Linked DNA regions of Homo sapiens: regions 2 and 3 are each linked to region 1. Evidence: fine-mapped expression QTL. A gene starts in region 1. Each other region holds a variant in brackets. All regions are shown on one strand. Distances are from middle to middle.

What was found. PIP is the estimated chance that this variant, and not a neighbour inherited with it, causes the effect.
Region 2: its variant is the best candidate, but not a certain one, in a credible set for the expression of CARD8 in whole blood (INTERVAL, PIP 0.65).
Region 3: its variant is the best candidate, but not a certain one, in a credible set for the expression of CARD8 in unexposed skin (GTEx, PIP 0.63).

The regions. Positions count from the first base shown.
Region 1 is chr19:48,250,580-48,261,229 of GRCh38, reverse strand. CARD8 (caspase recruitment domain family member 8) reads left to right here and starts at 5,318. Exons shown (of 14, transcript NM_001184900.3): 1 at 5,318-5,438. CARD8-AS1 (CARD8 antisense RNA 1) reads right to left here and starts at 5,555. Exons shown (of 2, transcript NR_040599.1): 1 at 5,436-5,555; 2 at 3,036-4,879. It also overlaps the pseudogene VN1R97P. RefSeq lists a silencer at 943-1,123 and enhancers at 1,096-1,295, 5,210-5,449.
Region 2 is chr19:48,230,574-48,235,573 of GRCh38, reverse strand. It overlaps CARD8 (caspase recruitment domain family member 8), which reads left to right. Exons shown (of 14, transcript NM_001184900.3): 6 at 1,031-1,171; 7 at 3,081-3,121; 8 at 3,764-3,914; 9 at 4,568-4,797; 10 at 4,874-5,000. Among named protein-coding and RNA genes, the nearest start is that of CARD8-AS1, 23 kb to the left of the region's middle. The variant G/A (reference allele first, on the strand shown) is at 1,909.
Region 3 is chr19:48,197,449-48,203,806 of GRCh38, reverse strand. It overlaps ZSWIM9 (zinc finger SWIM-type containing 9), which reads right to left. Exons shown (of 4, transcript NM_199341.4): 4 at 6,187-6,358. It also overlaps a transcript of CARD8 not described here. Among named protein-coding and RNA genes, the nearest start is that of ZSWIM9, 30 kb to the right of the region's middle. The variant C/T (reference allele first, on the strand shown) is at 4,340.

The DNA.
Region 1 (10,650 bases):
TTTGTTTGCATCTCACTATTGTTATATAGTCACGTCATTTTGAAGTTCTTCACAACTTAAGAAGAAAGTGTAACAATTGAATTAATTATTCAAAGTTCACTTTGGTTGCAATATTTTGGTTTGTTTTTATTCTGAGGGAACTGGCCATTTAATATTGGAGAGTTCTAAGTTCTTTTTTGTTTTTTTTAGACGGAGTTTCTCTCTTGTTGCCAAGCTGGAGTGCAATGGCGCGATCTCAGGTTCAAGCAATTCTCCCGTCTCAGCCTCCTGAGTAGCTGGGATTACAGGCATGCGCCACCACACCTGGCTAATTTTGTATTTTTAGTAGAGACAGGGTTTCTCCATGTTGCTCAGGCTGGTCTTGAACTCCCGACCTCAGGTGATCTGCCTGCCTTGGCCTCCCAAAGTTCTGGGATTACAGACGTGAGCCATCGTGCCCAGTCTGAGAGTTCTAAGTTCTTAGAAGGTGGTTGTGTTTACCTACTAAAATTTTATTGGTAGCAATAATCATCTAATGGAAATTCAGAGAAGTGATTTTAAAGATTTGAATTCCAAAACCCTATACAAACGTTTTATTTTACCACCAATGAATTTATCTGCAACACCTGAGTTGTGGGGCGGAAAGCCACCCAGGTGCCGAGGCGAGAGACCGAGGGCACGAGCTGTTCCAGTATAATAAAGAAAATATAGAAAATAAGAATAGTTATACTAGATCTAGATCATAGATATGATTATATATGAATATCATTAATCATTAGTTTGTAGCAATTACCCTTTATTCCAATGTTATAATAATCCTCGCTCTACAATCATAACCTAGGAAAAACCAGGCCATACAGAGATAGGAGCTGAAGGGGCACGGTGAGAAGTGACTAGAAGACGAGAGTGCGAGCCTTCTGTCACACCCAGACATGGCCACTAGAGGGCTCCCTGGTCTAGCGGTAATGCCGGCGTCTGGGAAGGCACCTGTTACTTAGCGGACCTTGGTCTAGCGGTAGCGTCAGTGCCTAGAAAAGGCACCCGTTACTTAGTGGGCCAGGAAAGGGAGTCTCTCTTTCCCCGGGGGAGTTAGAGAAGACTCTGCTCCACCGTCTCTTGTGGAAGGCCTGACATCAGTCAGGCCCGCCCGCAGTTATCCGGAGGCCTAACCGGCTCCCTGTGATGCTGTGCTTCAGCGGTCACGCTCCTGTTTCACTTTCATGTTCCACTCTGTACACCTGGCTCCGCCCTCTAGATAGCAGTAGCAGAATTAGTAAAAGTACTAAAAGTCTCTGAAATGCAGAAATAATGGCATAAGCTGTCTCCTCTCTCTCTCCACCAGGGCTGCCAAACAGGGAGGGGCCCCCTGTCCGGTGGAAACGTGACTCATGTGACCTTATCAATCATTAGAGATGACTCACACTCCTTACCCTGCCCCTTTTGCCTTGTATCCAATAAATATCAGCACAGCCAGGCATTCGGGGCCACTGCTGGTCTCCGCATCTTGGTGGTAGTGGTCCCCCGGGCCCAGTTGTCTTTTCTTCTATTTCTCTGTCTTGTGTCTTTATTTCTACGATCTCTCGTCTCCGCACAACGGGAGAAAGACCCACAGACCCTGTAGGGCTGGCCCCTACACTGAATGTCTGTTTATTTATATGCATAATAATCAACTCACATGTTCCAACTGAACAAACCAAATATTTCTATCCAATTTTCAATAAAAATATAAAAATCTACATATTTCATGTGTTTATGTTTGTTATGTCTCTCACAGCCTGCAACAAATTTAATTTAGCTATCCTCTGAACTACAAGCTTCCCTTTGTTGTAACGAACACTTTTCTTTTACTTAAGTATCGTTATTCCAGAGTTAATATAGTATGCATTCAAATTACTTCTTATTTAGTATTATTTTACCTAGTACCATTATATATTTAATTTTTTCTCATGAAGCCAGGCACAGTGGTTTGTGCCTGTAGTCCCAGCTACTCGGGAGGCTGAAGTGAGAGGATCCCTTGAGCCCAGGAGTTTAAGGTCGCAGTGAGCTATGATGGCACCGCTGCATTCCAGTCTGGGCGACAAAGCAATACCTCATTTCAAGAAACAAAATGGAATCTTTTCCTTATAAGAATCTTAAAGAAGGTGTACATTATCTTGGCTAACTTTCTATAGGATTAAGTGGAAGTTATTGAGACTTGGTCTACAGTCTTCTTTTTTTCATGAGTCAAAAAGCATCTCTCACTTTAGTTACACCTGTATTAGGAGAGTTATGATCAATTACAGCAGTTGTAGTTTCTGAGAACTTGGATAAATACAAACCTGAATTACACAGAATTTATGTAAATCCAGATATTCAAAAATGAGAAATAATGTAATATATGACCAAAGTAATATCAAGACAACATACAATTAAATCACTCAACAATTACTGGGAATATGTATCAAGGCAAGAATTGTAAAATTCTACCTGGTACTTCTGAAATGAACAAGGCAATGAGAAATAACAGTTTATCTTGTCTATTACTGAGTATCAATGAAAGCAATAAGGTGAACGGAAAAGTCCATGCAAACTCCATTTTCAGAATAACGAGGAGACAGATAGAATTCACAGATCCACATGTTTCTCACTGGCTGACAAAACTGTGTTAAGTCAGGGTGAAGCATAGCGGAGGAACAGGGAGGAAGTGCAGAGTGAGAAAACATAAAGAAGTCAGGAAGTGCCAGAAGAGTAATTTCCTGTGAGTAAAGCCTCATACTCGGTGATTTATCGATAGAGTTTGAATACAAGAGCTGTGAGGTCTGGGCAGTTGGAGTGGAGGCTGAGCAGGAGATAAATGTGGTAGAGGCGGTGTGGTTGGGAGATCCTTGAAAACAGAGAAATGCCCTAGTATGGCAGAGTACAGAAATACTACAAAAACTCACTTGTAGAAAGAACATTCTGCATATAATCAGGCATGGAACGGTCCCATGCATTCCATAATAATTAAGAAAAAGATATTGGCAGAGCATTGCTTAAAGGCACTGCAAGAAAATAGGTGAGAAGACCAGTAAGTTTTATTTATTTATTTTATTATTTTATTATTTGTTTTCGAGATGAAGAACAATCAAAGGAAAATGATGGACGGAAATTAACAATCATTCTTGGGCGGGGGGAAAAACTCCACCCACAATTCCTAAGTAAAAAGGGTTACACACATTCTCGGCATAATAAGTCTCTCTCAGGCCAAATGTGTTCATGTGAACACTATGAAGGCATTCCAGCTGAGGTCAGGAAAATACCAAGTATGACCTTCCCTATTTAAGTTAAAATATTGGAAGCTTATTCCAAAATATTGGAATAAATTTGAAATACAGTGATTGAATGGAAGGACATTAAATTATAACTCATTAGACATGTTATTTTACTCTATAGACAAACACAACAAATCACCTGAAATAAGCTATAAAAGATAAACCAGTAAGTTAGAGAAATAATCTTTTTTTTTTTTTGAGATGGAGTCTCCCTCTGTTGCTTAGGCCAGAGTGCAGTGGCGCAGTCTTGGCTCACTGCAACCTCTGCTTCCTGAGTTCTAGTGAGTCTCCTCCTCAGCCTCCCAAGTAGCTGGGATTACAGGCATGTGCCACCATGCCTGGCTAATTTTTTTTGTATTTTTAGTAGAGATGGGGTTTCACCATGTTGGACATGCTGGTCTTGAACTCCTGACCTCAGGTGATCTGCCTGCCTCAGGTTCCCAAGTGCTGGGATTATAGGCTTGAGCCATTGCGCCTGGCCAGAAGAATCTTAATGTACAAAAATGAATAGGTTTTTAATACAACAGACTATCCCAATTCCTTGAAAGAAGAAAATACACCCATTAAAACAGAAACTATGGTGCCTAGAATTAAACTGCACAAAAAACTACATGACCCATATAATTTTTTTATGTTGAAATAATTTTAAACATGCAAAATTAGCAAAGATTCATATAAATCCTCAACCAGCCTATCCTGATGTTAGCTATATATATAATTGTATTATATGTATAATAGTTGTTATATATAAAACTGTATATATACATTTATTGTATTATAATCATATATATACATTTATTGTATTATATATAATATACAACTGTATATGTAATTGTAATATAATAATTATATACATAATAGTATATGTAATACAAGTATCCAACCAGGAAATTGATGTCAACGTATCTTACCATTACCTAATGTGCAGACCTTATTTGAATTTTGTCAATATTTCTCTTAACGTCCTCTTTCTTCTCCAAGATCGAATCGAGGATCTCACATTGCACTCAGTTGTTATGTCCTTAGATTCCTCCAGGCTGTGACCGTTTCTTATTCTTCCCTTGTCTTTTGTGATTGTGACACTTTTGCTGAGCATGGCCAATTATTTTACAGAATGTTTATCAATTTGGATTTCTTTGATGTTTTCTCACGATTAGGCTGAGGTCATGCATGTTTGTCTTCTGTGTTCAGTCAATATGCCCCATCCTTTTTCAAATATTTCTTCATGTTCTGGCGTCAGAATTTGTTCCAATGTTATCTTATATATTCCTGCCCCAGCCCTCGAAGTAACCATTTCTCCACAGATACTTCAAAATAGTATTTAGAAACCAAGGCCGGGCACAGTGGCTCACGCCTGTAATCCCAGCACTTTGGGAGGCCGAGGCGGGCTGATCTCGAGGTCAAGAGACGGAGACCATCCTGACCAACATGGTGAAACTCCGTCTTTACTAAAAATACAAAAAATTAGCCGAGCGTGGTGGCATGCACCTATAATTCCAGCTACTCGGGAGGCTGAGGCAAGAGAATCGCTTGAACCTGGGAGGCAGAGGTTGCAGTGAGCCGAGATTGCTCCATTACACTCCAGCCTGGGTGACAGACGGAGACTTCATCTCAAAAAAAAAAAAAAGTAATATTGATTAAAAATCAAATTGCATGAGAATGCATAGCAGGATACCAAGCAAATACAACTTTTAAATATTACAGAAAATGATATTTAAAATACAAACCAAATACATAAATCATGCAGGCGGATTAAGACGTTTCTGGATAGTGGTAACAGCTGAGAGTGGCTGGATGAATTCCAGAGAAATTTCATATATTGCTTCAATTTTATTTAAAATATACTATTACCTATGTCTTAGATATTTTATTTTAAATAATGAACAAGGATATTATAAACTCTGCAGAAGTAAGTGTAATCGTGTTTTTTTCCTGCCCACATTAAAGATGGCCCAGATGCTTGCACTGACCCCATTGACTGCCCACAGCCATCATGGCGACCGGAAGTCCTGAGAGCTTACTTCCCTCAGTTCTCAGAAAGCCCACCTCCTCTGCGAGCGTTATTTCAAAAGAAGTTGAGAACCAGAGAAACCGACCTAAGGGGATTCTCCCATTTGGCCCGTCCTACCCTAAAGTCACCACCTGCTGCTTTTCTGGAGCGCTTACCAGGTGAGTTTCAGGAGCCCTAGTGTACAGGAAGGAGAAACGGAGGCTTGTTGGTAGGACACCGCCAGGCTGCTCTGTGTTCTGTTCCTCTTAGTCAGCAAGGAAGGAGTACGACAAAGTGAGAAGTTCATATGAGCGTGTCAGAAGGGGAAATAGGGCCCCTCCCTTGTTAAAAACAAAACCCTCTGGAAGCTCGGCATCCTGTCATAACTTAAATTTATGACTTCAGTGACTTGGCTTGGACAGTCTTAATAATCTCTCTCACACTCAATTTGTTTTAATTTCTGTAATAATAATTTTTATACCAATGTTTATGTTGTTAATACTAATAATTTTACACTGTAACTGTATAACTTTAATTATTAGAAGTGTTAACCTAACTAACAAACATATGAAAGCTTCCTAAGGGAAACAATTTTTTTTTCTTTTTGAGATGGAGTCTCGCTCTGTGGCTAGGCTGGAGTACAGTGGCATGATCTTGGCTCACTGCAACCTCTGCCTCCCAGGTTCAAGCGATTCTCGTGCCTCAGTCTCCCAAGTAGCTGGGACTACAGGCGTGCACCACCACATCCAGCTAATTTTTTATTTTTTAGTAGAGACGGGGTTTCACCATGTTGGCCAGGATGGTCTCCGTCTCTTGACCTCGAGATCAGCCCGCCTTGGCCTCCCAAAGTGTTGGGATTACAGGCGTGAGCCACTGCGCCCAGCCGGAAACAATGTTTATTTGGGAATAGAGCATTGCAATTGGGAATAGACATGCCGTATTAAACTATGTGTATATTCAGGGAGATAAAGGAAGACAGAAATGGGGAGGATTGCATATTGTTTTAACAGAATTTTCCTTGGCTACAAAGATCAGTAACAAGGGTGACATTAGTCCTAGGTTGGACCAGCAGTTGCTGGGCAGCATTCCTTGCAGAAATATATATTTTTTTAAGGTTGTGAAGACCTTTATGTAAGGTTGTGGGTTTTGTAGAGTCTTTTTCATCTTCAGGCATGCAAGGATAAGAGCCCTCTCTTCATGGCCTTCCTGGCTCTATTTGTCAGGGTTATCTTAACATAAGTGACTCCATTTTGTTCTGACAACTTTCAGATTTCCCCTTGTGATCAAGAAGTTTCTCTGAAAGCACTCTCCTGCCTCAGCCTCCCGAGTAGCTGCGACTACAGGTGCCCACCACCACACCCAGCTAATTGTTTTTGTGTTTTTAGTAGAGACGGGGTTTCACTATGTTGGCCAGGCTGGTCTCGAACCCCTGACTTGTGATCTGCCCACTTCGGCCTCCCAAAGTGCTGGGATTACAGGGATGAGCCACCGCACCAGGCCTGCATTTCTTTTTTCAAAGAATTACTGTGGCATTTTTTCCAATGTCATTGTGTTCTGTGGTTCTTATCTAGTCTTCACATTTATTTACATAATGAACTTTCAATGATGGATTTCTACAGAATTTTTGTCACTAAGTGGTTGCCTAGAAGTATATATCCTAAGATTGAACATATTGAAATATGAGCTAACTTTTCTCATTCAATTATTGATTACTTAGTTAGTTTATTTATTATTTGGGGGATGGGATCTTGCAATGCTGCCCAGACCAGACTCAAACTCCTGGGCTCAAACTCCTACCTCAGCCTCCCAAGTAGGTGGGATTACAGGCATGTACTACTTCACCTGGCTCAATTATTTATTATTTATAACTCATTGTACATATATTCAGATAACTTAATCTGTGCATTAAACTCTTCCACTTTGTTGATAGTCATTTCTGTGTTTGCTATGTGGCTACATATGTATGCTATGTGTTTCCTCTATGCTTGAGATAGGATGATGGGGATTCTTCAATGGCTGTGTGAGTTGTTATTCTAGGGCACTTAAGTCAAGAATATGAATTGCTTTGGTCAATTTTTTATATCTTTACTGATACTCTGTTATTCTGTTAATTGCTGAAAGACTATTGAACAGATTTCCCACAAGAGTGGAGGATTATTCTATATCTGTTTATCATTCTACCCGTGTATACTATATACATATTGAAAGTGTGAATATGTATACACAAAATTAAAATTGTTATTCTTATTGAAGTGATCTACTTTATACTTAGTAATGCTGTTTAGGTAAAATATATTTTGTCTAATATTATTGGAGGTGCACCTGCTCCCCATTGATTACATTTTTACACAGATAGTCATCTTGCATTCTTTTATTGGAATCTTAATATAACTTCTTTGGGTTTATCCCCTGTAAGATGGAGGGAAATGCTCTTGAAGCCTAATTTGTCTGACATTCATATTGTTGCTCCAGATTCTTTTTAATAACCATGTATATGGTATATCACTGCCACTGTCATATGAGGGGTGGGGAAGTGGCCCCACTTGGAAACATTTTTGCAGATGAGTATTTAAAATGATAAATGTTGGCCAGGCACGGTGGCTCACACCTGTAATTACAGCACTTTGGGAGGCTGAGGCAGGTGGATCACGTGAGGCCAGGAGTTCGAGACCAGCCTGGCCAAATTGGTGAAACCCCGTCTCTACAAAAATACAAAAATTAGCCAGGCATGGTGATGCATACCTGTAATCCCAGTCACTGCAGCTCCCTGCACCTGTACTCTCACACACCACATTCTCTTAACCAGTCCTATTCTTTTTAGCTCCTATCATGTGTACATATACGTTTTCCTGTACCACAAACATTCTGTATAATCTCTTGTGCTATTATGTTTTATCTGTTTAGATCATGGATGTATGTCCAACCCATTAAATAGTACCAAGAATAAGGAACATGTGCAAAATGTATTTGTGGAATGAATACAAGAAGTGCCATAGAGCAGTGCAGTTTAACAGAAATATAATCCAAGCCCCAAATGTATATTAAATTTTCTAGCAACTGCATTTAAAAAAGCAAAAACAAGCAGATACAGTTAGTTTAAAAATACCTATGTAGTTGTATATGTATACACATATGTGTGTGTGTGTGTGTGTGTGTGTGTGTATATACTGATAAGGCCAGTGCGGTGGCTCACACCTACAATCCTAGCACTTTTGGAGGCTGACACAGGCGGTTCACTTGAGGTCAGGAGTTCTAGACCAGCCTGGCCAACGTGGGGAAACTCTGTCTCTACTAAAAAATACAAAAAAATTAGCCAGGCATGGTGGTGCACACCTATAATCCTAGCTACTCGGAAGGCTGAAGTGGGAGGATTGCTTGAATCCAGGAGGTGGGGGCCGCAGTGAGCTGAGATCACACCACTGCATACTCCAGCCTGGGTGACAGAGCAAGACTCTGTCTCAAAAAAAAAAAATTATATATATTATATATATTCTTACATATGTTTTACTTACATATTTGTGTATATGTATTTTATTTAAATATGCATATATATGTAAACATAACAAAACATATACATACGTTTTACCCAAAATGTCATAATTTAAACTTGTCAGCAATGTGAAAGTTATTAAGATAATATTTATATACTGTTATTTATATTGACTTCAAAACCTGAATGCTTTTTAAATTTATGATACACCTCAATTCAAACTAGCCCTAATTCAATTGCTCAATAACTGCATGACTTTTTCTCCACAAAAGTCATCATGGAGACTTCCCAGCTGCAGAAGAAAGTATGGGGTTTGAGATCAGCCATTGAATGCTCCCTGAGAGCTGATCATTCTTGTCTTAGAGAGGAAGAGGTAAATTAGGAAATAATTTTATTATTTTTTATTAGCACAAAAGGGCAGATGGTTGGGTAGCATGATGAAATAATTCCAGTGATCATCTCTAGTCTTGATTTTTTCTCAGATTTATAAAAGAAATAAAGAGTGATGAAGTTGTTTGAGCAATAAAAGCACACAAAGCAACCAAGCAGCAGGAGGATGGTATGGGTGGCTCTGTGTTCAGGAGATGGCTGGGAAGAGAGGCTAGGGCTGTGCAGACGCTGGGCTCTCCGCCGGTGTCTGCAGAGGAGACTGGCCATGTTGATGCTGGTCCAGACCATGAGGAACACAAACAGGACATGGCGAATCACCATGACATTTATAAATGATCCTTGGGGGAGTTTTATCTGTTTAGATCACGGATGTATGCCAAATCCATTAAATAGTACCAAGAATAAGGAACATGTGCAAAATATATTTGTGGAATGAATAAAATAAGTCCCATAGAGCAGTGCAATTTAACAGAAATATAATCCAAGCCCCAAATGTATATTAAATTATTGTATGTATGGCCTAGTTTGACAACAGTCTTGCAAATATCCAGGACCAGAAATGGTGAAATTGGTATTGGCCTCTACGGTTTCAGTGATGTGAACGTAGATTAGCATGTTGGTGATCCAGAGGAAAATGAAAGAGGGAACAAACCTCAAGGCTGATATGCGGATCACACAATAGTTTACCAAACTGCCCAATATCATAACCAGAGACGTTCACACTACAAACCAGGAGAAAAAGTTGGTGTTTTCACACTGTATAACTTTCTGCAAGATGCTGAAACAAGACTCTATATCATAATGAGACTTTCATCTCACTTAATTCGACCTTTTCTACTTAGCAGAATAATGGTGTAACTTAAATTTTATGATCAATTCCTTCTGCTTATAACTTAACAGAACCCAACCTACAAAATTCTTTAGTATCCATTGGTTAAGCAAGAAATTGTCTGTGATGTTGCTAATACGACATGCTATACCTGAATAAATTCCTCTGAGAAAAGTTGAGGCTCCTATACACAAAATAAGAAAGCAGGCCATGTGGTTACCCCAGGTCTCACCTAACTCCCTGCTGTCTCGAATAACTGTTTGAGTTCTTCAATTAGTTGTCTTTAAACCTAGGTTTATGGCTCAAAACCATATGCAAACTGAAAATCTCATATTGCTCTTAATTTGTATTTCCCCTTACTTTGTATTTCTCCTTTTTAAACTTTGTATGTGTTACTTGTTAAATTTTTTCAGAGGTGCAGCTCCTAACAAAATAATACTGAATCAGCACTTTAAAGGGATAGCAAAAGACTGTAGAACAGACAAAATTGAACTTACTAATGGACTCCAGGGAGACTTAGCCTGAGAGCCACATCCTTCAAATCTCTTTTGTTGCTCAAATGTGCTTTTGACATCGATTCCTAGTCACCAGTCACTCCCCACAACATGGGATGAGACCAGCAAACTGGGAGAGGTCCATGCTGGCATCAGGGGACATCAAATCTTAATTACAGAATGATTGA
Region 2 (5,000 bases), 23 kb after region 1:
CTGGAGTCCTCTTCAAAGCAGATTTTGTTGCCAGACGTCCTATGCCTATGTCCATTACCCAGAAAAATTCTTTTAGTTTCACGTGGCTGGGGAGGCCTCACCATCATGGCAGAAGTCAAAGGAGGAGCAAAGGCATGTCTTACATGGTGGCAGGCAAGAGCCACGTGTGGCTTTTGAGCACTTGAAATATGGCTACTTCAAAGGAGGAACTGATTTTCACATTTAACAATTTAAAACTAAATGTAAATAGGCAGGTGTGGCTAGTGGCTGTCATATTGGCCATTGAATATCTTGGCATAAAGGACACTCCATCACTCCTAACCTCAATCTTGATTCCTGCCAGCCATAGGAGGACAGCACCAAGCCTTCAAAAATGAAGAAGAGAAAAGGATCTAGCATAGGACTCTCATGTTCCATATCTGAATAAGGATCCTTGATGGGAAAAGAAAGTGTGTACAATATCCATAATTTTCTTTTTCTGTGAGCATTTTTGTTGCTTTATGCAACCCCTCTCACCATTTGCAGGCAGAAGGGAGAAGAGGAGATAACTGTTCCATGGGTTCTTATAAAACATGCCCAATCTCACTAATGCCCTGCAATCCCAATCATTTTAGGGTCCTATTCTCTCGGGCACCAATTATGGATGAAGGGAGACTACAAATTAGGAATCTCATCCTTTCCCTAAAATTCTTAGCAAGGTTATATAGGTCAACATACTTGTTGACCTATTATGAAACCAATGTTTGTGGCAAATGCTAGATGTTGAGAACTGACTGACGTCTGCTTCCTAGGATGGAAAGAGCAGCATATAGTGGGAAACAGAGAGCCAGTTAAATTTAACATAATGAGATGTAAGAAAGAGTCATGGGAGTCTGAGAGGTGAGATGGAGTCGTAGGGGCCTGAGGAATGACTTCCCTAAGATAAAATATTGAGTCTATGGCTATTAACATAAAATCTTCCTGCACAGCCTATGCTATCATCAGGCACCTACCTTATATTCATAGTAAAAATTCTGTTGTTGTTTTCCAGGGTATACAGGGAGCTACCCTGTGTTTCTGAGACCCTTTGTGACATCTCACATTTTTTCCAAGAAGATGATGAGACAGAGGCAGAGCCATTATTGTTCCGTGCTGTTCCTGAGTGTCAACTATCTGGGGGGGACATTCCCAGGTAAGAAAAGCTATTCCGTTGGAAAACTATTGGACGCTGTGTCTCAATATCACAGAGGAACATGAGAATTAGAGGAATTTGGGTGTTTTTCATCGAACTCAGGGGAGAATGAATGAGCTTATGCAATACTAGCAATGAATCCAGAAATTTTTGAAACAAACCTTAAGCAATGAGGTTTTCTTCCATGGAGGTGTCTAGAGAACCTATACACAAAAAGGCAATGAGCAATGCAATCGAAGACCAGTGGGTTATTGGTTAAGCTGTTACTCAATACATAAAACCAACCTAATTCTCTAGGAAACTGGCTGATGATGAGGCTGAAGGCCACAGTGGGGTCCTGAGGTTTAACACCGGGGAGGGGAGAATGCGTCTATTTGTAGGGTATGCCAATTTCCAAGGGTTGAATATCCCCATCATGGCAGATTTCAAACTACCAACGTGAAGCCCCTGATGAGGGAGTTGAAAGAACACATGCAGAAGTCTGTCATCCTGCTTTCACCACACAGATACAAGAGACATAAATAACCTCAAGGGCATAGACTGCTGAAAAGTGTAGAAAAATGACTGGAAATTGGTATGTTTTAATATGTATTACTTTTGTTTTTAATATGATTTATTTAAATGTTAGCTTGTATCATTTAATTTAGACTAATGGTTGTGTTGAACAACTTGGTTGCAAAAGCCCTGAAAATGGAACCGTCAGCTCTCATGATCTGGGATGCGCTGTCTGCAGTTCA[G/A]CGCTGGGTTCCTCCCACTTTCTAAACCCCTCCTCAGCAGGCAGACTCCAGCATGCACATGCACCAGGAAAGAGAATATAAAATGGCATGTTTACTCTTGCTGCTTTGCCTGTAGCTACCCGAATCCATAGCAAAATGTGTAGCCGCAGACAGCAACCAGTCTTAGGATGTCAGCCCAGGGGTCTCTCCATGCTTGGCTTGCCCACAGAATCCTTCCGAGAAAAGCGCTGTAAAGCCTTTCTCTTCATCCCACTTCTCTAGGTACCTGTTCTTTTTAAACCTAATCCACGTGTCAGTTTCTCTGCTGGTCTCTTTCACGTCGAAATAAACAGATATCTCAAGGAATGGATCAAAGGCAGAGAATTTGATGGAGTTGGTTGCCTTGCTCCAGAAGGTATCACCTGTGTTAGGGCAGGTTTCTCTCCAGAGGCATGACGAACCATTGGCTCACGCTGTATGTCATAGAACCCATATTGGCTAATATTGGAATCACCTGTGAGGCTTTGAAAGCGCCGATGCTTTGGTGCCACCTCCAGACTTCTGATTCAATTGATGTGGGCTGTGACCTGGTATTGGGTGGTTTTTAAAGCTTCCCAGGTGTGGTCAAGTTTGGAATTACCTTGGAATATAAATGCATACATTTTACGCATTGGTGAATTACTGCTTCAGTCTTTGATTCCGACATCGTATGATACCAATCGGAGCAATCAATTTAAGCCAGAGAATCTGGCTGTGTCCACATTGAACGTGGGCATAATACAAAGAGAAGAAGGAGAGATGTCAAGACACATTTGGCTCAAGGGAGTGTGTTATCTCTATTATTTATAAATGTGGATAAAAATATCTTCATTCAAAATGTCTTCTATTTCTTGATAGTCTAGATCCGCCCAGTCTAAGAGAACTTTCTGTGATGACGGGAGTGTTCCATTCTCTGCTACACAGTGTTATAGCCGTGAGTGATATGTAGCTGTTGAGCACTTGAAATATGGATAGTGCAACTGAGAAACTAAAGTTTACCTAAGTTTAATTCATACAAATTTAAATAGCATATCCGGGTAGCGGCTACTCTACGGGACAGTGCAGCTCTAGTTTTCAATAACATCGTCTTCATCTTCATCAACTGATTCTTGATGTTTTTCATCTTTTTGTAACATGGGGATCCCAACCTCCAGTGTATCAGAAGAGCAGGAATCTTCAGAGGGACAAGATTCAGGTAATGGGCTAATAGGGAGAGGAGTGAAGGGCGTGTGGATTGATGGAAATGTTCTGTGATTTTATGTGAAGAAGACAATTTAGAGTCTTTTGTGCAGATCAGGAGTGCTTTCCCTTACCTTTGCCACAGTGCACTGTGCAGTTTAAATGGGGACATGTAAGCCTGTCACTGCTGGGGCATGGAAATGCTCAGGGGAGTCAGTGGGTGGTCCTGGTGGCTGGGGACAGCAGCAGGGCCTAGGAAGGATGCACGCTCTTTCGCCTCTGCATCTTTGGAGTTCGATACTTTTCTGACCTGGACTTTCCTCACCAGCAGAAAGTGTCTTCTGCTATTTCGGACCAGTAGAAATGTAGGTGCATTGGTTCCAGTCCTCAGCAAATGGTGCCTCCCACCAAAGCTGTCCAGCCTGGCTTCCCAGAAAGTCTTATGGAATTTGGTGTATACGTTTAGTCATGACAAGGAACATTCTTGTGCCTTTCTTTGTCTGGATTCAAAGAAGCGAAACTGCATATTCTGGTCACTCTCAGCTCTCATTCGATATCTGTATCCCAACAGCACCTGTGCAATTCAGCCTCCAGGAGTCCTTCAGGCCATGCCTCTTCCAACCCTTTACCTCTTACATGTCTAGTATTTTCTTTTCAGGAGACATTTGCTCAGAAGAGAATCAAATAGTTTCCTCTTATGCTTCTAAAGTCTGTTTTGAGATCGAAGAAGATTATAAAAATCGTCAGTTTCTGGGGCCTGAAGGAAATGTGGATGTTGAGTTGATTGATAAGAGCACAAACAGATACAGGTAAGAATGGAAGATGCTGATGATTTGAAAACCACTCTGATATAAAGGAAGTGTGTAGGCCAGGCGTGGTGGCTCAGGCCTGTAATCTCGGCACTTTGGGAGGTGGAGGAGGGCGGATCACAAGGTCAGGAGTTCGAGACCAGCCTGGCCAACATGACGAAACCCTGTCTCTACTAAAAATACAAAAATTAGTCAGGCGTGGTGGCACCCGCGTGTAGTCCCAGCTAATCAGGAGGCTGAGAAAGGAGAATCTCTTGAACCCAGGGGGCAGAGGTTGCAGTGAGATGAGATCTCGCCACTGCACTGCAGCCTAGGAGACAGAGCGAGACTTTGTCTCAAAATAAATAAATAAATAAAAATATAAATACAAAAGGAAGCGTATCGGTTCCATCCCTTATGATAGCTAAAATTTCATCAATAATATGTTTATTTCATGCACTGTGAAGTTGGTATTTTAATTTCAACATATATAGAATGCAGAGAAATTGGGGCCCAGAGAGGTTAATGAACTCCCCAGCGTTTTCTAATGTAGTGAAAGTCGCAGATGGGTCCTGAACCTTGCCTCACTTCAAATCCCACCTCCCTCTGCACATCGCTGCTTAAATCCAAGTCCTGGGGTTCTCCCGTCATGACATCACTCTGGCTCCTTTCAGCGTTTGGTTCCCCACTGCTGGCTGGTATCTGTGGTCAGCCACAGGCCTCGGCTTCCTGGTAAGGGATGAGGTCACAGTGACGATTGCGTTTGGTTCCTGGAGTCAGCACCTGGCCCTGGACCTGCAGCACCATGAACAGTGGCTGGTGGGCGGCCCCTTGTTTGATGTCACTGCAGAGCCAGAGGAGGCTGTCGCCGAAATCCACCTCCCCCACTTCATCTCCCTCCAAGGTAATGTGGGGTGAGCGGAGGCTGTGGGGGCCGCTGGGGTGCGTGCCGTCTCACTGCTGTTGTGGTTCTCCTGCAGCAGGTGAGGTGGACGTCTCCTGGTTTCTCGTTGCCCATTTTAAGAATGAAGGGATGGTCCTGGAGCATCCAGCCCGGGTGGAGCCTTTCTATGCTGTCCTGGAAAGCCCCAGCTTCTCTCTGATGGG
Region 3 (6,358 bases), 55 kb after region 1:
GACTGGATCGTCACTATAGCAACAATGAAACATCGGGAAGGGCTAGTTCTGCTAGGCAGTCTGCCATTTTCATTCTTTCATCTTTTTTTTTAACTCAAAGCTTACTTTGCAACAGGCACTGTTCTAGGCACTGGGGATACAATGGAAAACAAAATAGAGCTTCTATTTTGGCGGGAGATCGACTTAATAACTGTGAACACGTGTCACTGGAAAAAGCAGTATGTTAATAAGTAACTGGGCTGCTTTGGGAAAAATGGAAATGCAGGCGATGTTAGAACACTGGTACACACACTAATTCATTCATCCTCACAAAGCCCTATAGACAGGTACTATTATGACCCCTCAACTGTAACATAGGCTGGAAGGTCACATGACAAGGAAGTAGTGGAGCTGGGATTTGAACCCAGGCAGTCTGGCTTCATACTTGATAAGCTTAATCACAATGCCAAAGTGGTAAATAGCTGTGTGGCATAATTTCAGGTAGTGATAAGTGCTGTGAAGGATAAAGCAAAGAAAGGGGCAGGGATGGCTCTTTAGAGAGACTACTTAGGGATGGCTTTCAGGAAGAGGTGGCATTTGAGCAGGGGCCCGAGGGATTGATGTGACTTGTGATAAAAGAAAAACTTCAGACGAATTAAATTTAAAGAAGTTTAATTGGCTAGGCACTGTGGTTCATGCCTGTAATCCCAGCACTTTGGGAGGCCGAGGAGGGCGGATGGCTTCAAGTCAGGAGCTTGAGACCAGCCTGGTCAACATGGCAAAACCCTGTCTCTACTACAAATACAAAAATTAGCTAGGCATGGTGGTGGGCACCTGTAGTCCCAGCTACTCGGGAGGCTGAGGCACAAGAATTGCTTGAACGCAGAAGGTGGAGGTTGTAGTGAGCTGAGATCGCACCACTGTGCTCCAGCCTGTGCAACAGAGCGAGACTCCATCTCTAAATAAATAAATAAATAGAGTTTAATTGAGCAATGAAGGATCCACGAATCAGGTAGCCTCGGGCCAGAGTAGGCTGAAACTCCAGCACAGCCATGTGGTGGAAGATTTATGGACAGAAAAAGGAAAGTGACATACAGAAAACGTAAGTGAGGTACAGAAACAGCTGGATTGATTACAGCTCGGCGTTTGCTGTACACAGTTCGAACAGTTGGCTACATTTGATTGCCCAAAACTCGGTGATTGGCACAAGCGTAGGCCACCTTCTGTTTACACCTCCACTTGTTATAGTTCACGACGTACAGAAAAACCTTCAGGCCGAACTTAAAATATGTAAGGAGGCAGCTTTAGGCTAAACTTGATTTAACACTGTGAGCTATATATGTGGGGCATATAGAGGGTTAAGGTTTACTAACCTTTAGTTTCCTCTTGCCTTCCTGAAGGGCCAAATACTGTAATACGTGCAGTTCCCTCCAATAGGAACGTACTTCTTCATTCTCTTTTCCTGGCAAACACATTCTTCAAGGTCCAGTTCTGTGAAGATCCTTCTGCCTGTTTTTTAAAATTTATTTTTATTTGTTTGTTTATGGTCACATACGTCTCTTCCTGGTCTGGACTCATCCAATCCATTTGTCACAGTAAAGCTTCTGGGGTAGGGGAGGTGGTTATTCTAATGTACATCCAATCAAGCCACTCTCTGTTTAAAACCTTTTGAAGGCTTCCCATACCTCCCAGGATAAAGACTCACCTCATCTTCTATCTTTAAGGGCTTGCGGATTTCACTGTCCAAATCTCTCCCTCTTTCACACTCTGACCCATCTACACTGGCCCATCTTCTCTTTACCTTATGGGCTGAGCTCTTTTCCACCCCAGGGTTCTGTGTGTTATTTGGTGAATCAATTAATGAATTAATTCAGCTTCCCGTCACTAACCAGATAGCCCACATCTAAGAATCTAATGATAAAACAGGCAAGTGGAGAAGTTTTGGATTTGGTTTGCGCTCAATAGCTGTTGTTTGCCTTCCCAGGATCCCTCCTGCCTCCTTTCCTTTCTCTCTTTCTTTTTTTTTTTTTATTTTTTATTTTAAGAGATGGGCATCTCCGGGCGCAGTGGCTCACGCCTGTAATCCCAGCACTTTGGGAGGCCGAGGTGGGCGAATCATGAGGTCAGGAGATCGAGACCATCCTGGCTAACACGGTGAAACCCCGTCTCTACTAAAAAATAGAAAAAATTAGCCGGGTGTGGTGCCGGCCACCTGTAGTCCCAGCTACTCGGGAGGCTGAGGCAGGAGAATGGCGTGAACCCGGGAGGCAGAGCTTGCAGAGAGCCGAGATCGTGCTGCTGCATTCCAGCCTGGGCGACAGAGCGAGACTCCATCTCAAAAAAAAAAAAGAGATGGGCATCACGGGTGTGACTAGCTGGGGCCAGTATCATGGGAGGTAAAGGCATTTATCAAGACAGTCGTAGGGAAAGAAAGGCAGATTTATTAGACAGATAGTACATTGCAAGAAAGCAATGGGCAGCACAGCAGACGAAGAGCTGTCTGCAAAGGCAGGGGCTGCAGGGAAGTTTCATAGGGTTGTACTGGAGGGGTCTACGTGCTGAACGAGTTACCCTAGTCCTCCCGGCCAAGGCATTTTTTGAGACAGAGTCTCACTCTGTCACCCAGGCTGGAGTGCAGTGGAACAATCATGGCTCACTGCAGCTTCGACCTCCCAGGCTCAGGAGATCCTCCCACCTTAGCCTCTTGAGTAGCTGAGATCACAGACGTGCACCATCATACCAGGCTAATTTTGTTTCTATTTTTGTAGAAACGGGGTCTTCCTATGTTGCCCAGGTTCGTCTTGAACTCCTGGGCTCAAGCGGTCCTCCCACTTTGGCCCCCCAAAGTGCTGGGATTTCAGACATGAGCCACCAAGCCCTGCCAAGGCCTTTTTAGTTCACCCAAAAGCCAGATGACTCCCGATATGTGGGCAAGCCCAACGAAGATCAGCTACTTTATCAAGATTAGCTGCTTTCATTTTTTTTAAATAAGCCTATTTCCGATAATTGTAGGTTTATGATCAGTTGCTTTGCTTTTCAAAGTATAACATGCATACTAGGATCTTGTTAGAATGAGATTCTGATTCTGTAGTTTTGGAATGGGTTTGAGAATCTGCATTTCTTTCTTTTTTCTTTCTTTCTTTTTCTTGAGATGGAGTTTTACTTTGTCGCACAGGCTGGAGTGCAGTGGAGCGATCTCGGCTCACTGCAACCTCCGCCTCCTGGGTTCAAGAGATTCTCCTGCCTCAGCCTCCCGAGTAGCTGGGACTACAGGTGCGCCACCACGCCCAGCTAATTTTTGTATTTTTAGTAGAGGCAGGGTTTCACCATGTTGGCCAGCATGGTCTCGATCTCCTGACCTCAGGTGATCCGCCCACCTCAGCCTCCCAAAGTGCTGGGATTACAGGTGTGAGCCACCGTGCCCAGCCGAGAATCTGCATTTCTAACAAGCTCCTAGGGAATGTTCATGACACTGTTGCATGCACCACACTGAAAAGCAAGGGTCTAGCCAACCCCTCAGGTGACCCAAGACTCATAAGCAATACGTGTTCATTTTTATTATTGTTTTAACTTTTAAAGTCAGGGGTACATGTGCAGGTTTGTTGTATAGGTAAACTTTTATCATGGGGGTTTGTTGTACAGATTATTTTGTCACCCAGGTATTAAGCCTAGTACCCATTAGTTATTTTTCCCGATCCTCTCCCTCCTCCCATCCTCCACCCCCTAGTAGGTCTCCATGTGTGTTGCCCCTCTCTCTGTGTCATTTCTTCTCATCATTTAGCTCCCACTTATAAGTGAGAGCATGCAGTATTTGGTTTTCTGTTCCTGTGTTAGTTCATTAAGGATAATGACCTCCAGCTCCATCCATGTCCCTGCAAAGAACATGATCTAGTTGTTTAATGGCTCTATAGTATTCCATGGTGTATATGTACCATATTTTCTTTATCTAGCTTATGATTATTGATGGGCATTTAGGTTGATTCCAAATACATGTTTATTGTTATATACTTAGGAAGTTTTATAGTTGTTAACACAGCATTTATGTAGCCATGGATAACTGATAACCTCCATAAATCCAACCTGCTGCTTCCTTGAGACTTAATATACGAATGCTGATAGAATGGTATTTTTGGATCAAGATAGGAGGGTGTGATATGGGAACTTCTAGTCCCCCCCTTTCTCAGGAGAGAGCTGTCTTTTGAAGAAATCCATCGCACGAAAAGCAGGCGAGAGAGGGGAAACCTGACATTGTTTGAGCCCCTGCAGTCAGCTGCCATCAAAGCCTTTGACTTCGCATGACTTGAACCACTGAATCATTTTTTTTCTTTTTTTTTTTTTTTGACAGAGTCTCGCTCTGTCA[C/T]CCAGGCTGGAGTGCAGTGGCACGATCTTGGCTCACTGCAACCTGCGCCTCTTGGGTTCAAGCAATTCTCATGCTTCAGCCTCCCAAGTAGCTGGGACTACAGGCACCCGCCACCACATCTGGCTAATTTTTGTATTTTTAGTAGAGACAGGATTTTGCCTTGCTGGCCAGGCTGGTCTTGAACTCCTGGCCTTAAGTGATCCACCTACCTCAGCCTCCCAAAGTGCTGGAATTACAGGTGTGAGCCACCACACCCGGCCTGAATTGTCTTTTATCTCAAGTTCCTTCATTGCTACTCAAAGTGTGCTCCACAACCCAGCACAGCCACATCATCGGAGAGCTTGCTAGAATGTTGGGCCCTATCTTAGACCTACTGAGTCAGACTCTGTATTTTAAGAAGGTGCCCACGTGACTCACGTCCACGCTAAAGTTTGAAAAATGCTGAGCTACTTCAACCTGGACTTTGTCACCTATAATAGAATTAAATCCCCTTCATCAGTTGCGACAACAGAAACCCCAACTCAAACTTCCCTAAATCATTAGGGTATCTTTGATTGGCCAGGTGCAATGGCCCACATCTGTAATTCTAGCACTTTGGGAGGCTGAAGCAGGGGCATCGCTTGAGGCCAGGAGTTTGAGAACAGCCCAAGTAACGTAGCAAGAGACCTCATCTTTACAAAAAGTTAAAAAAAAGAAAAGAAAAGAAAAGAAAAAGAAATTAGCTAGGTGGTAGCACGAGCCTATAGTCCTAGCTACTCAGGAGGCTGAGCTGGAGGATCCCTTGGGCCCAAGAGCTGGAAGGCTGCAGTGAGCTATGTTTGCACCACTGCACTCCAGCCTGGGCCAGAGCGAGACACTGTCTCTAACAAAAAAGGATATATTTTACTTAAGAAGCCCCATGGTAGAGCAGACTCGAGAGACTCAACTGAGCCAAGCAAAGATCCAGATTTTCTTCATCTCAGCTCTGTCATCCTCAGTGTGGACTTCATTATCACACCATACCAAGGTAATCATCAGCAGGTCTAGGCCTGATCATGTCTCTAGGCCTTCTTAGGAGTGATAGAATCTTTATTAGAAGCCTCCTAGGCCGGGCGCAGTGGCTTACGCTTGTGATCCCAGCACTTTAGGAGGCTGAGGCGAGCAGGTCACCTGAGGTCAGGAGTTTGAGACCAGCCTGGCCAACATGGTGAAACCCCGTCTCTACTAAAAATACAAAAATTTGCCAGGTGTGATGGCGCACACCTGTAATCCCAGCTACTCAGGTGACTGAGGTATGAAAATCACTTGAACCTGGGAGGTGGAGGTTGCAGTGAGCCGGGAACGTGCCATTGCATTCCAGCCTGGGTAACAGAGCAAGACTCAAAAAAAAAAAAAAAAAAGCTTCCTAGTTCTGAGCACAGTGGCTCACACCTGTAATCCCAGCACTTTGGGAGGCTGTGGCAGGAGGATTGCTTAAGCCGAGGAGTCCAAGACCAGCCTGAGTAACATAGCAAGACCCTGTTTCTACAAAAATATAAAAATAAAAAAGCCTCCCACCTCAACCTGAGCAGACTCGTTGACCAGGACTGGGTCACAGGCCCATTCTGTGGCCAGGACATTTGGCATGAGTCAGTCATTTGAAGGTAGAATCGACTCATGTCAAGAAGTTGCCACTGGGACGCACTGGTCCAGATGATGGAGGAGGAAGCTTGAGTTGCTATGGAGATGAATTCATTGTGGCTCCTCTATCCATCTGGCCCCAGGAGGCCTTGTCGGTAGAAAGAATGAAGGAACGCTGGACCATCTCAACTGTTCCCTGGATCTGGGACTCCCAACCAACCCCAGAAGCCAAGAACTCATCACGGAAACCAAAATAAGATTGTTTTATTCCAATCCTGAAGAACAATAGTCCAAACAATTCCCCTCCCCTGCTGGAGACTCTCCTGACCCCCAGTGCCCGCCCTCCCTCTCTCTTCAGAAGGCGATGGGGGTCGATGTCTCCAGGTCTTGGAGAAAAACCAAAACCACGCCCCTTGCATT